Linked DNA regions of Homo sapiens. The protein of the gene in region 2 purifies or fractionates together with the protein of the main gene of each other region. This does not show direct contact. Each region holds a gene or a part of one and is shown on either strand. Other genes may lie near its edges.

Region 1 (3,655 bases), on a different chromosome or scaffold from region 2:
CAAAAAACTAACCTGCTCATTCTGAATGACTTGGCAAATACAGGGTTTACAAAATACATGTGCACAATGTGTTATCACAGGAACTGTTAAAGAATCCAGGCAAATTGCACATTCCTCATCTGAACCTGAGCTCAGAATTAACTTCATCTTCCTTATTAACTTCTTTCTCAGTTCTTCAGGTGTATCATTTCCTAGAGAAAAGGCTGAAAAATTAATTTCAGAGCAAGGTTTGTAATATGACAAGTTAATCTATCTTATAAGGAAAAGTTTCGCTTGCCAGTAGGGAAAGTCTCTCATCATTTTCTGCCATAGGCAAAAAGCATAATTTAAATTTGAAATTTAAGAAACATTCAGAAGCCAAAATAGTAGCCAACTCACATAATATACCTCATAGAGAAGCATCATTATAACATGACAATAACATACCACCACACAATAAAAGGCAGATCCAATATGAATCTTTCATCAAAGGGTATCTATCACCGGAATTCCTGGAAAGACCTCATTATAATTCCATTTCATTGGTAAAAAAATTATTGGATGTATTCCTAGCTGAGTCTCACACTAAAAGCAATCTCCATTTGACAGAACAAAATAAACTAAATGTATGCCACATAAAAAAAATTTATCACTCTTATTTAAGTATCTCTGACAAATACAATGATATGAAGCAATCAAATTTACCTACCTGAGGGGCCATTGGAAGACACTGCATTTGTAAGAAGGTAAGTATGGCAACAAATTTGCCGCAGTCTAAGCAAAAGACCCAGGACATCTGCATAATGTGCCAGGACAGTCCCTTCATTAAAATACCTAGAGATTAAAATGTCAAATATTATTAAGTCCGCTAAACAATAATAACTTCCTATTCTAAAACAGCAGAGTAAAATGGCATTTTTCTTTTCTTCTCTAGAAATTACTCCAAAACAAGAATGAAAAGCAGAAAAGCAACTCTAATAAAACCAAGAGAGATCTATAACAATAAGGCACAATATATGAGAAATGGCTGCCAATTGCAGTCTAAGTCAGATAGGAAGATGCTGAGAGGGATGACTGCAGATCTCAAACAGAGCTGCCAAAACACAATTCTTTAAAATGGATGGCATGCCCTGAGGGGAAAATCAATACCTCTCATGTGCAGAAACAGGAACAGGGTGCATGCTTGGTGACTTGAGCTTCCATGGAGAAATTTATATCAAAAAAAGAGGGAAGGTAAACTGAATACAGAAACATACAGGTGCACTGTATTTTCAAAAAAAGACTATGGGCACAGCACTCTACACTCCAAGCACCCCTAAAGTTTCTGATCTCTGTTTATGTGTACTAATAAAACCTAAAGTAACTCAACATGTAACCCTGAGTCTTAAGTAAATTGGGTTATTTCCTGCTGGTCGGGGACATGATTGTGACCTTTCCCTTTTGTATATCTGGACTAGCAAATAGCTAGTCCAAGAAGAACTCAAGATATTCAAATATAAGTAATAATCAGCAGAGAGCAAAGGTAGGGGACACATGGCAGTGAAAGAAAACTCAGCAGAAAAATGTTGCCACAGAGCAAATAAAAATTATGACCAAGGATACTGTCACAATTTAACACCACTCAATAAAACAATTCCTCCAAAAAAAAAAAATCTTAAAGCAAAGACAAAGAGCTTTGAAAAAATATGGCAAGAGAACAGGAAGAGATGAAAGATGAGCTGGTATGGCTCAAGAAAGTGAAAGAAAACAGTGAATCATCAGAGAAATGAAAGTCACACTGAAACCAATATAAGCCAATATAAAAAAAGACTAGTCACTGATAAAAACATAGAAAAGGATGTAGGAAACAGGACTGAGAAAATCAAAATTAAACAAAAAAATGTAAAAGATCAGAAATAAAATGATACCTATGGAACACAGATAAAAGACATCTAACATACACAGAGAGAAATAAAATAATGGAACAGAAAACAATATTTAAAGAAAGCTTTCCAGGAAAGAGAAGGGGGGAAAAGCCTGGAATCTAAAGATTTAAATAATATCACATGTCCCAGGGGAAAGTCAACAAAGAAGTTGCTGAACTTCAGAGGGAAAAAAAAAAAAAAAAAAAAAACCAGGCTTCCCCACAGAAACATTCTATACAAAATACAGTGGTACAATGACAACATAGATTCTTAAGGAAATGGGTGATCCAAAAATTATATAACCAGGCCATCTGATATTTAAGTATTTTAAGGCAACAGAAGAAATATAGCCTAACGGCTAAGAGTACAAATTTTTAGAGCTAGCTGGTCATGAATTCAAAACCTGGCTGTGCCAATTTAATTATGTAACCTTGGACAGGTTGCTTAACCTATGTCTTGAGCTTCCTCAGTTCTAACAGTGGCATTGTAAAAGTACCTACCTCATACAACTACTGTTATTTAATTTAATACATGTAAAGTATTTAAAATAGTGCCTGGACTATATTAAGTGCTATACATGAATCTGTTGCTAGTATTAGTACTGGTAGTATTATGGCAACAAACATTTCTGAATATTCAAGAATGCAAGGAATAGGCAAAATAATACAAAGATTAAACTTACAAGCTCTAAACCAAAGTGCCAGAGTTAATCTGTCCTGTCACTCACTAGCTGTGTGACAACAGTGTAAGTCACCTAAACTGCTCTGTGCCTCAGTTTCCTCACTTATAAGATGTGGATAATTATACTGACCTAATAGGATTGCTGTGAATACATTTAAAGCACTAAGATCAATGTATAACACCTAGTGAGTGCTAAATAAATGTTAGTAAATATATAGCCTATTAAAAAGAATACTTTAAAAATAACTTATTTTCTGAGAACAGTTTCAATAAAGTTAATCTTTTTCAACTTTTTCAAATAGAATAACCTTTACTAACACTAATTATTCCCTGGCATGGTCATATCTTACTGATACTCAGCATTTCAATTTAAGAGATCTCTTTTGAGTGCCTACCATGTGCTAAATATTAGAAGCTTCCTTCCTCCTATTTCACCAGCCATTGCTATCTTCACAGTTAGATCTCTTTCACTTTACTCACTCCCTTGGTGATCTCATGGCTTTAATTACCATCCACACATAGCTGACTTTGAACTCGACTCTCCTATCCAACTAATTATTTGATATCTCTACTTGGAAAATTCACGGGCATCCTATGATCAATGTGTCCAAAACTGAGCTTCTGATCTTAGCTTAAAAAAATCTCTGCTCTTCCCATAGACCTGTCTTGGTAAACAGCAATTCCAGCCTTCCACTTATGCAGGTAAAAAGGCTTGAAGTTATCTTTGATTCCTCTTTCACATGCCATAACATATCAACCAGCAAGTTCTGTTGGTTCTACGTTCACAATTTAACAGAATCTAATCATTTCTCACTCCCTTTATCACTACTATGGTAAAAACCACCATCATCTCTTGCTTTGACTGCCACTGGTCTCCCTACTTCTGACCTTATTCCTATTCAAATAACCTAAATCTGAGCACAGCAGCCAGAGTGATCTTTTAAAAATATAAATCAGATTACGTCCCTCTCCTGGCTCAAAACCCTTTAAGGTTTCCTGTCATAAAAAGTAAAAGCCAAAGTCCTTGACATATGCGTTACATACCCCCATTCCAATAAATCTCTGATATCATGACTATTTTCTCTCGTTCA
Region 2 (3,655 bases):
TATATAGTCTATTTTATCATTTAGTATTATAAAATATAGAGAAATTATAAGAAGTTAAAGTGTATCAAAACTTAGTAAACACAGACACATATGGTGCCACTTGAGGTGGTACAAGAAATTTAAACAAATGTAAAGATGCAGTATGAATCATAGCTGTATAAAATTAATTGTAGTACATACTGTAATAATTTCCTGTTGCTATTATGAATTTCCACTTAAAATGCTGTGGACACTAATCATCTCTGCATGTATTGGAGTAAAATGTAATCTCTTGTTCTTGTGTATTTTTCATCATGTTTAGTACAATACCATAAACCTTGAATAACACCATGGGACCCATGTGAAGTGCCACTAGTGATGCTAGAAGTGCTCCCAAGAAGCCAAGAAGTCATGCCATTACAAGAAGTTAAATTACCTGGTACACACCCTAGATGGGTCTGCAGCTGCAGTTACCCATCATTTCAGACAGACACCTTATAAACAGGTAACATAAACACAGTATCGGTAAATGCAGTACTGTAAATGTATTTTTTCTTCCTTAGGAATTTATTTTCCTTTAGCTTATTGTAAGAATATAGTATGTAATGCATATAACAAACAACGTGTTAACTGACTTTACAGTAGGCTATTAGTAGTTAAATTTTGGGGAAGTCAAAACTTATACTCAGATTTTCAATTGTGCAAGGGGTTGGCACCCTTAACCCCATGTTGCTCAAGGGTCAATTGTACTGCCCTCTTATTGTCTTTGAGCATTCTTTTATTTCACCTCTCATTATGCATTATCTTTCAAAAATACATTTGCGTAGAACAACACAACCAGGTTCTTCTTGGCTGAGATTTAGCCATCTTATGCAACCAATAAAAGTGACTCCAGATAAAAGCAGACAAAAAACTTAACAGATGTAAACAGGAATCCTACAGCAGCCCTAAGAGTCCACAGTTCATATAATTTTAGTAAATCTTGCATGCTTTGGTGACTTTTTCAATTTCTATATCCTCATGAATAATTTTTTCAAAGTGCAGACTAACTGGATAAATGCTGGGGAAGGAAAATGAATTAAAACTAACATAATGCTCTAGATCCTAGCTATACAAACAAACTGGGATTCCCAACTAGTACTATCAGCACTACCTGGGAGCTCTTCACAAATGAAAATCCTAAGTGCCACCCTAGACCTACAGAACCAGATCTCCAAGTGATTCACATATATTAGTTAGTGAAACACTACCAAATCCATATGTCACTGAATCCTCAAAACAACCCTGTGAAATATGACTATACCTATTTCACAAATGAGGAAGCCTAAGCTCAGGAAGTTAAATGACTTACCCAAAGTCAAAGCCATCAATATTGGGAGATGCGATTCAAATTCAAATTTACCTTTAAAAATGTCTTTCTACAATGTATTGTCTCTCACAGAAAAGGTCACGTATTATCTAATAGAAATATGATGCAAGCCACGTATGCAATTTCAAATTTTCTATTAGCCACATTAATAATAAAAAGAGGCAGGGCATGGTGCCTCACATCTGTAATCCTAGCACTTTGTGGGTAGTGACACAGGAGGATGGCTTGAGCCTAGGAGTTATAGACCAGCCTGGGCAAGATGGTGAGACCCCCATTTCTACAAAAATAATAATAGAAAGAAACAGGTAAAATTAATTTCAATAATATATTTTATTTAATCCAACGTTTCTACATTACTGCTTCAGTATGTTTCAATATAAATTGTTAATGTAATATTTTATGTTCTTGGGTAAGCGTATGCATACTTCTTTGAAATCCAGTGTGTATTTTACACTTACAGCACAACTTAATTCAGACTGGATACATGTCAAGTGCTCAATAACTCCATGTGGCTAGTGGCTACTTTACTGGGCAATGCTGGTCTAGAATGTCTTGCATATTAATCTTGTTAAATACAAAACTGACAAGTCACTACAGGAATTGTTTAATAGAGACAATGAATTCAATGTTAATTTACCTAGACTTTTGCCGAAGACACATTAAAAAAGAAAACTGCATATTCTGTTATAATCAAAGTTAATGGGTTTAGGTAGCCCCAATTCTGCCAAACTGACCCATCACCTATTAACTCTCAGAATTTATACAGTTGACCCTTGAACAATGTGAGGAGTTAAGAATGTCTACACCCTGCGCAGTCAAAATTCCATGTAAACTTTTGAGTTTCCAAAAACTTAACTACTAATAGTCTACTATTGCCTGGAAGCTTTACTGATAACATAAACAGTGGATTAATATATGTTTTGTATGTTGTATTATATATTGTTTTCTTGCAATAAACTAAAAAAAAGAAAACATTATTTAAAAAATCGTAAGGAGGCCAGGTGCGGTGGCTCACGCCTGTAATCTTAGCACTTTGGGAAGCTGAGGCAGGAAGATCATGAGGTCAAGAGATCAATACCATCCTGGCCAACATGGTGAAACCCCGTCTCTACTAAAAATACAAAAATTAGCTGGGCATGGTGGCGCACACCTGTAGTCCCAGCTAATTGGGAGGCTGAGGCAGGAGAATCTCTTGAATCTGGGAGGTGGAGGTTGCAGTGAGCCAAGATCGCACCACTGCACTCCAGCCTAATGACAGAGCAAGACTCCATCTCAAAAAAAAAAAAAATCATAAGGAAGAAAAATATGTTTACATTCATTAAGTAGAAATGGATCATCATAAAGGCCTTCATCTTTTTCAGGAGGACGAGAAAGAAACATTGGTTTTGCTCTCTCAGGGGTGGCAGGGGCAGAAAAAAAAAGTATTGTATAAGTGGAACTACACGGTTCAAACCTTTGTTCAATGGTCAACTATAATTTCAACTGGGCACAAAATAGGGCATACATGTAATACTTATAACAATCATGTGAAGAAGCCCTCAGAAAACTCCCACATTATTTGAAACCAAAGTTTTTTTAAAGTTGGAGGAGAAGGGATGCTTTTATTTTAACCAATAGGGGGATGTAAAACAGAACAGTATGATTTCAACTACAGGCCAGAATTAATTTGCCAAACATAAATAACTCAAACATACATAATTCCTACTGGAATGAATGACCTGTAAATTTTACACCAAACTTAATATGATGATGTATGAAGAAGGTAACATAAAAAAAAGAAAAAGTCTAAAACCAAATTAGATACTTTGCCCCTAACAATTCTGGAGGAAAAAAACAGTGACAGGTAAAACTTAAAAATACACAAAGGGGTTTAGGGATTATCAATGAATTTAAATCTTGACCCATTCAAATAAGTGAAAAATAAATACAACTAAAAATGAAGTAATATTGTACCATTTATAATTTGTAACAACTCAAAATACTCATACTCCCACTTTTCAAGTCAGTCACAAGATCAAAGTCAAGAGTTTTTTTCAGGTAATAGATTCAAGCAAGCGATTATCTTTAATCAAAGAAAAAGATGAGCATATAACATCAATATAAATACATATAAAAACAAAGACAAATATCAATTATAAATATTTGAAGACTTACTGTATTTTTCTAATTATTAACAGCTAATGTTTAATAAGATTTTTGCCATTTATTCAAAATACACAAAACAGTAAATGTTCTACATGAAATCACTCAGTGACAGAAAGAAAAAATACTTGAAATGTTCCAACTTTTGGTACACAACTCAAAAAA
Region 3 (3,655 bases), on a different chromosome or scaffold from region 2:
CTGAACCTTGGTTTATTTACAAAAGGGAGAATTATTTAAGGGTTAAATAAGGTAACCTATGAAAACTACCTATTCCCAATGCTTGGAACACAGCAGTTAATATTTATTTCCTTTTAAGCTTTAAAACGTTTGTTTGGGGTTTGGCTTCAGAGTAACTAGATTAGCATTATAAAGACATGCCTAACCTGGAAGAAGCCTAGAAAATTAAAGTATTATAGGATTTAGGTTTGGAAACTGAGTAGGCTAATTCTTGAGTATTACATGAATATGTGGCTATCATGGCTATAGGAAAGATGGGGGCTTGCGCAGATGAAAACAGCATCCAGTTTGGCAGAGCACTGCCCACTGGAGAGTATGGACACATTCCACACCTCATTTTCTCCTTCAGTCAATGAAGTTGTATCTGTGGCTCCAAAGCACTTTTATAGTGTTCTTTTGTTACTTTCATTACGCCATCAATACTAACACCTCAAAATATTGAAATGTGTTAGAAATTTGTGCGTAGACAAATGAATAAAAAACAACACATTTTTAAAAACCTTTTCGGGCTTCTTCCTCCAGTTCATCCCAATCCTTTCCACTCTCTTCTTCACTACCCAATGACTCCTTAGAATAGTCTGGAAGAAAATTAATTAAGCGTTAGTCATCATGCGGGAACAGAATGGAACGACAGAGTTCTTAGTCTAAAAAAAGTAGTTTTCAGAAATGACATTAGATTAGGAAGCCAGGACGAACTTTGCTCTGTAAGACTAACCTGACTCTTCTGCTTCTGATGAATAATCTTCATCACTGTCCTCCTCTTCCTCTTCATAGTCATCTTCTGAAGGATTAAAAGTCTCATCTTCAATTTCAGACTCTGAATCCCCTTCTTCAGCATCACTCCCCTGGTGAGTTAGAGCATAATACTGATTTTTTTTTGACATTTACCTTATTAACTTAATGAATTAATTCAGCCCACATAGTATACCAGTATTTACATGAAGAAAACAAGAGCAAAATAATCTGAGGGATCAAGAGATAAAATGACTTGTTTAAAATTAGTGGTCAGGTGCAATTATTATTTTACTATTATTATGTATTATTACATTTCTGAAAAATTCACGTTAGCCTTCCTCACCCAGGGAAATTAACAACAGAAAGACTTTCTGTATTTACGTATCACACAAACGTTAAGTGGATCATTTTTTAAAAAATAATTTTTGCAAAATGCCCTGAAGGATTTTTCCCTAAATGCTAAGAAACTCATTGAGGAAAAGTTTTTGTAATTTCCAAGAAATCTTGTCAGGAGTTAGTTACCACTGCCCAATCAATTTATCAATTTGAAGAAACAATAATATCAAGTGGTGTTTAGAGCTTCTCCCAGATGGCCTAGTCCCTTATGTACTACTCATATTCCATTCTAACTGACCAAATGATAGCGGGCAACACTGTGTACCAGAAAAGAAACCCCACACTCACGCACCTCACCCTCAGGCTCCAGGAAAGACCAGCCACCTTGTTCGAAGAAGCCCTCAGGGTCATCAACAATGGTCTTCATGATTTTAGTCCAGTTGAGGGACTGTACTCCTTCTGTGTATTTCAGGTCGCAGGAACTAAGAGAAATGACATGACAAAGTCAAATCAATCTTCTGTATTTTCCATATATTCTTTCTTCTTTTTTTGAGACAGAGTCTTGCTCTGTTGCCCAGGCTGGAGTGCAGTGGCACAATCTTCGCTCACTGCAACCTCTGCCTCCTAGGTTCAAGTGATTCTCCTGCCTCAGCCTCCCGAGTATCTGGGATTACAGGCGCATGCCACCATGCCTGGCTAATTTTTATATTTTTAGTAGAGACAGGGTTTTGCCATGTTGGTCAGGCTGGTCTAGAACTCCTGACTTCAGGTGAATAACCTGCCTCAGCCTCCCAAAGTGCTGGGATTACAGGTGTGAGCCACCGCGCCCTGCCTGGGAGCAGATATTCTTTGCACTATGCCACCAGATCATGTCCCAATGGCTGCTATTTGATCTCCTAGAGCACTAGCCCTCACAACAGACCAACATTCCAACTGAAACAAGCTTTCTCCTTCACCTGAGTCTGAGCTCATCCTCTCCCATTTTCTTCCTTAAACACCAATTTCCCTCTTCTTCACTTAGTCTTCTCTCCTATTCACCCATGCTTTTCCCTCTCTGTCACTGATTCCATTCTTATTTCTAAGTAGTCTTAACTCATAACCACTTCTGCGATTCTGTTTTTCACTATTGTAGTTAAGAAATAGGGACAATTTTCAGCCGGGTGCGGTGGCTCACGCCTGTAATCCCAGCACTTTGGGAGGCCAAGGCAGGCGGATCACGAGGTCAGGAGATCGAGACCATCTTGGCTAACACGGTGAAACCCCGTCCTACTAAAAATACAAAAAATTAGCCAGGCATGGTAGCACGCGCCTGTAGTCCCAGCTACTTGGGAGGCTGAAGCAGGAGAATCGCTTGAACCTGGGAGGTGGAGGTTGCAGTGAGCCGAGATCGTGCCACTGCACTCCAGCCTGGGCAACAGAGTGAGACTCTGTCTCAAAAAAATATATAATAATAATAAAAAAAAAAAAAAAAAAAAAAAGAAAGAAACAGGGACAATTTTCAATGGCCCTAGCCTTTCTTCTTCAACCTTTCACTGCTTTCCTATGTGTTGTTTATTTGATGCAAAATCTGTATGAAGGTAGGAACAAATTTTTTTTCCCAGTACCTAAAGTGCCCTGTATTTAGACAATGCTCAAATGACTTTCTCTTTCTCACTTCTGTTGAGGAGGGCTGAATCAGTTAAGAGTGGGTAAGAAGAAAAAAATCAAAGAAATGACAATAGTAAGGATAAAAACAAACAACCATAAAATCTGCCTGAGAACCACTGGCATAAATCCACTTTAGACAATATACACGGCAACTTCTGCTTCCAGCCATGATGGAGTAACAATGACTAGATTTACTTTCCCACCTTAAACAACTACAAAACAAAATATGAAACAACAGTTTTCAGACATTGGATAAAAAGCAGCACAAGACCATAATCCCTGAAAGAAGGAAACAACAAGGGTTAATTGAACATTTGCCCCAGTTTTCTGTCTAGAGGCAATTCCTAGCCTGCTATGCAGGGAGGGAGAATCCACCACAACCTGATGGTCTCCAGGAACTGAGACAAAGTAGGATTTGGGAAGGCTGGGACAGCTAGAATTTGTGGAGAAGAGTACAGGAAGGAAGAGTTTCCCAGAGAGAAAGCTCCAGAGATCTGCAGAGGGGTCCCCTCAAGTCTTTGGTGGAGGGATGATCTACACATTCATGAGAAAACTGGAACTGCATAAAGAAGCACTGGAAAGCAGTAGGACAGACAACTCCCAATCTCACACAGAACTAGAAATAAATCGTGTTCCAGTGGATTTATTTCCACCACCTTTCCACCAGCTTCAGCAGAGAGATCTCACAATCCACAGGGCATCAGGCAGACTCTGAAGAGTATTGCCTCGTAGTAAGGCCAATTACTTGGAAGTTTTTGAGTGAAACTTTTAAAGGCTGTTCTAAATCCACACTAATAGACATTTGAGAACAAGCCTTGAAAGATCAAACAGAATCCAACTAACTTGACTGCATCCTAGAATAACCTCATCTCTAGTAAAAAAAAATTAGCTGGGTGTG

What was found.
Region 1: the proteins of RNF146 (region 2) and HLTF purify together in Homo sapiens (affinity purification with mass spectrometry; 4 studies listed by BioGRID and IntAct, with this or other methods). This does not show direct contact.
Region 3: the proteins of RNF146 (region 2) and SUPT16H purify together in Homo sapiens (affinity purification with mass spectrometry; 4 studies listed by BioGRID and IntAct, with this or other methods). This does not show direct contact.

Annotation. Positions count from the first base shown.
Region 1 is NC_000003.12:149,041,478-149,045,132, forward strand, and holds part of HLTF (helicase-like transcription factor), read right to left. Parts: intron 814-3,655; coding exon 689-813; intron 204-688; coding exon of another isoform or gene 192-203; coding exon 13-191; intron 1-12. UniProt on the Homo sapiens protein: Has both helicase and E3 ubiquitin ligase activities. Possesses intrinsic ATP-dependent nucleosome-remodeling activity; This activity may be required for transcriptional activation or repression of specific target promoters.
Region 2 is NC_000006.12:127,269,802-127,273,456, reverse strand, and holds part of RNF146 (E3 ubiquitin-protein ligase RNF146), read right to left. Parts: intron 1-3,655. UniProt on the Homo sapiens protein: E3 ubiquitin-protein ligase that specifically binds poly-ADP-ribosylated (PARsylated) proteins and mediates their ubiquitination and subsequent degradation. May regulate many important biological processes, such as cell survival and DNA damage response.
Region 3 is NC_000014.9:21,352,949-21,356,603, forward strand, and holds part of SUPT16H (FACT complex subunit SPT16), read right to left. Parts: intron 1,593-3,655; coding exon 1,463-1,592; intron 885-1,462; coding exon 755-884; intron 618-754; coding exon 540-617; intron 1-539. UniProt on the Homo sapiens protein: Component of the FACT complex, a general chromatin factor that acts to reorganize nucleosomes. The FACT complex is involved in multiple processes that require DNA as a template such as mRNA elongation, DNA replication and DNA repair.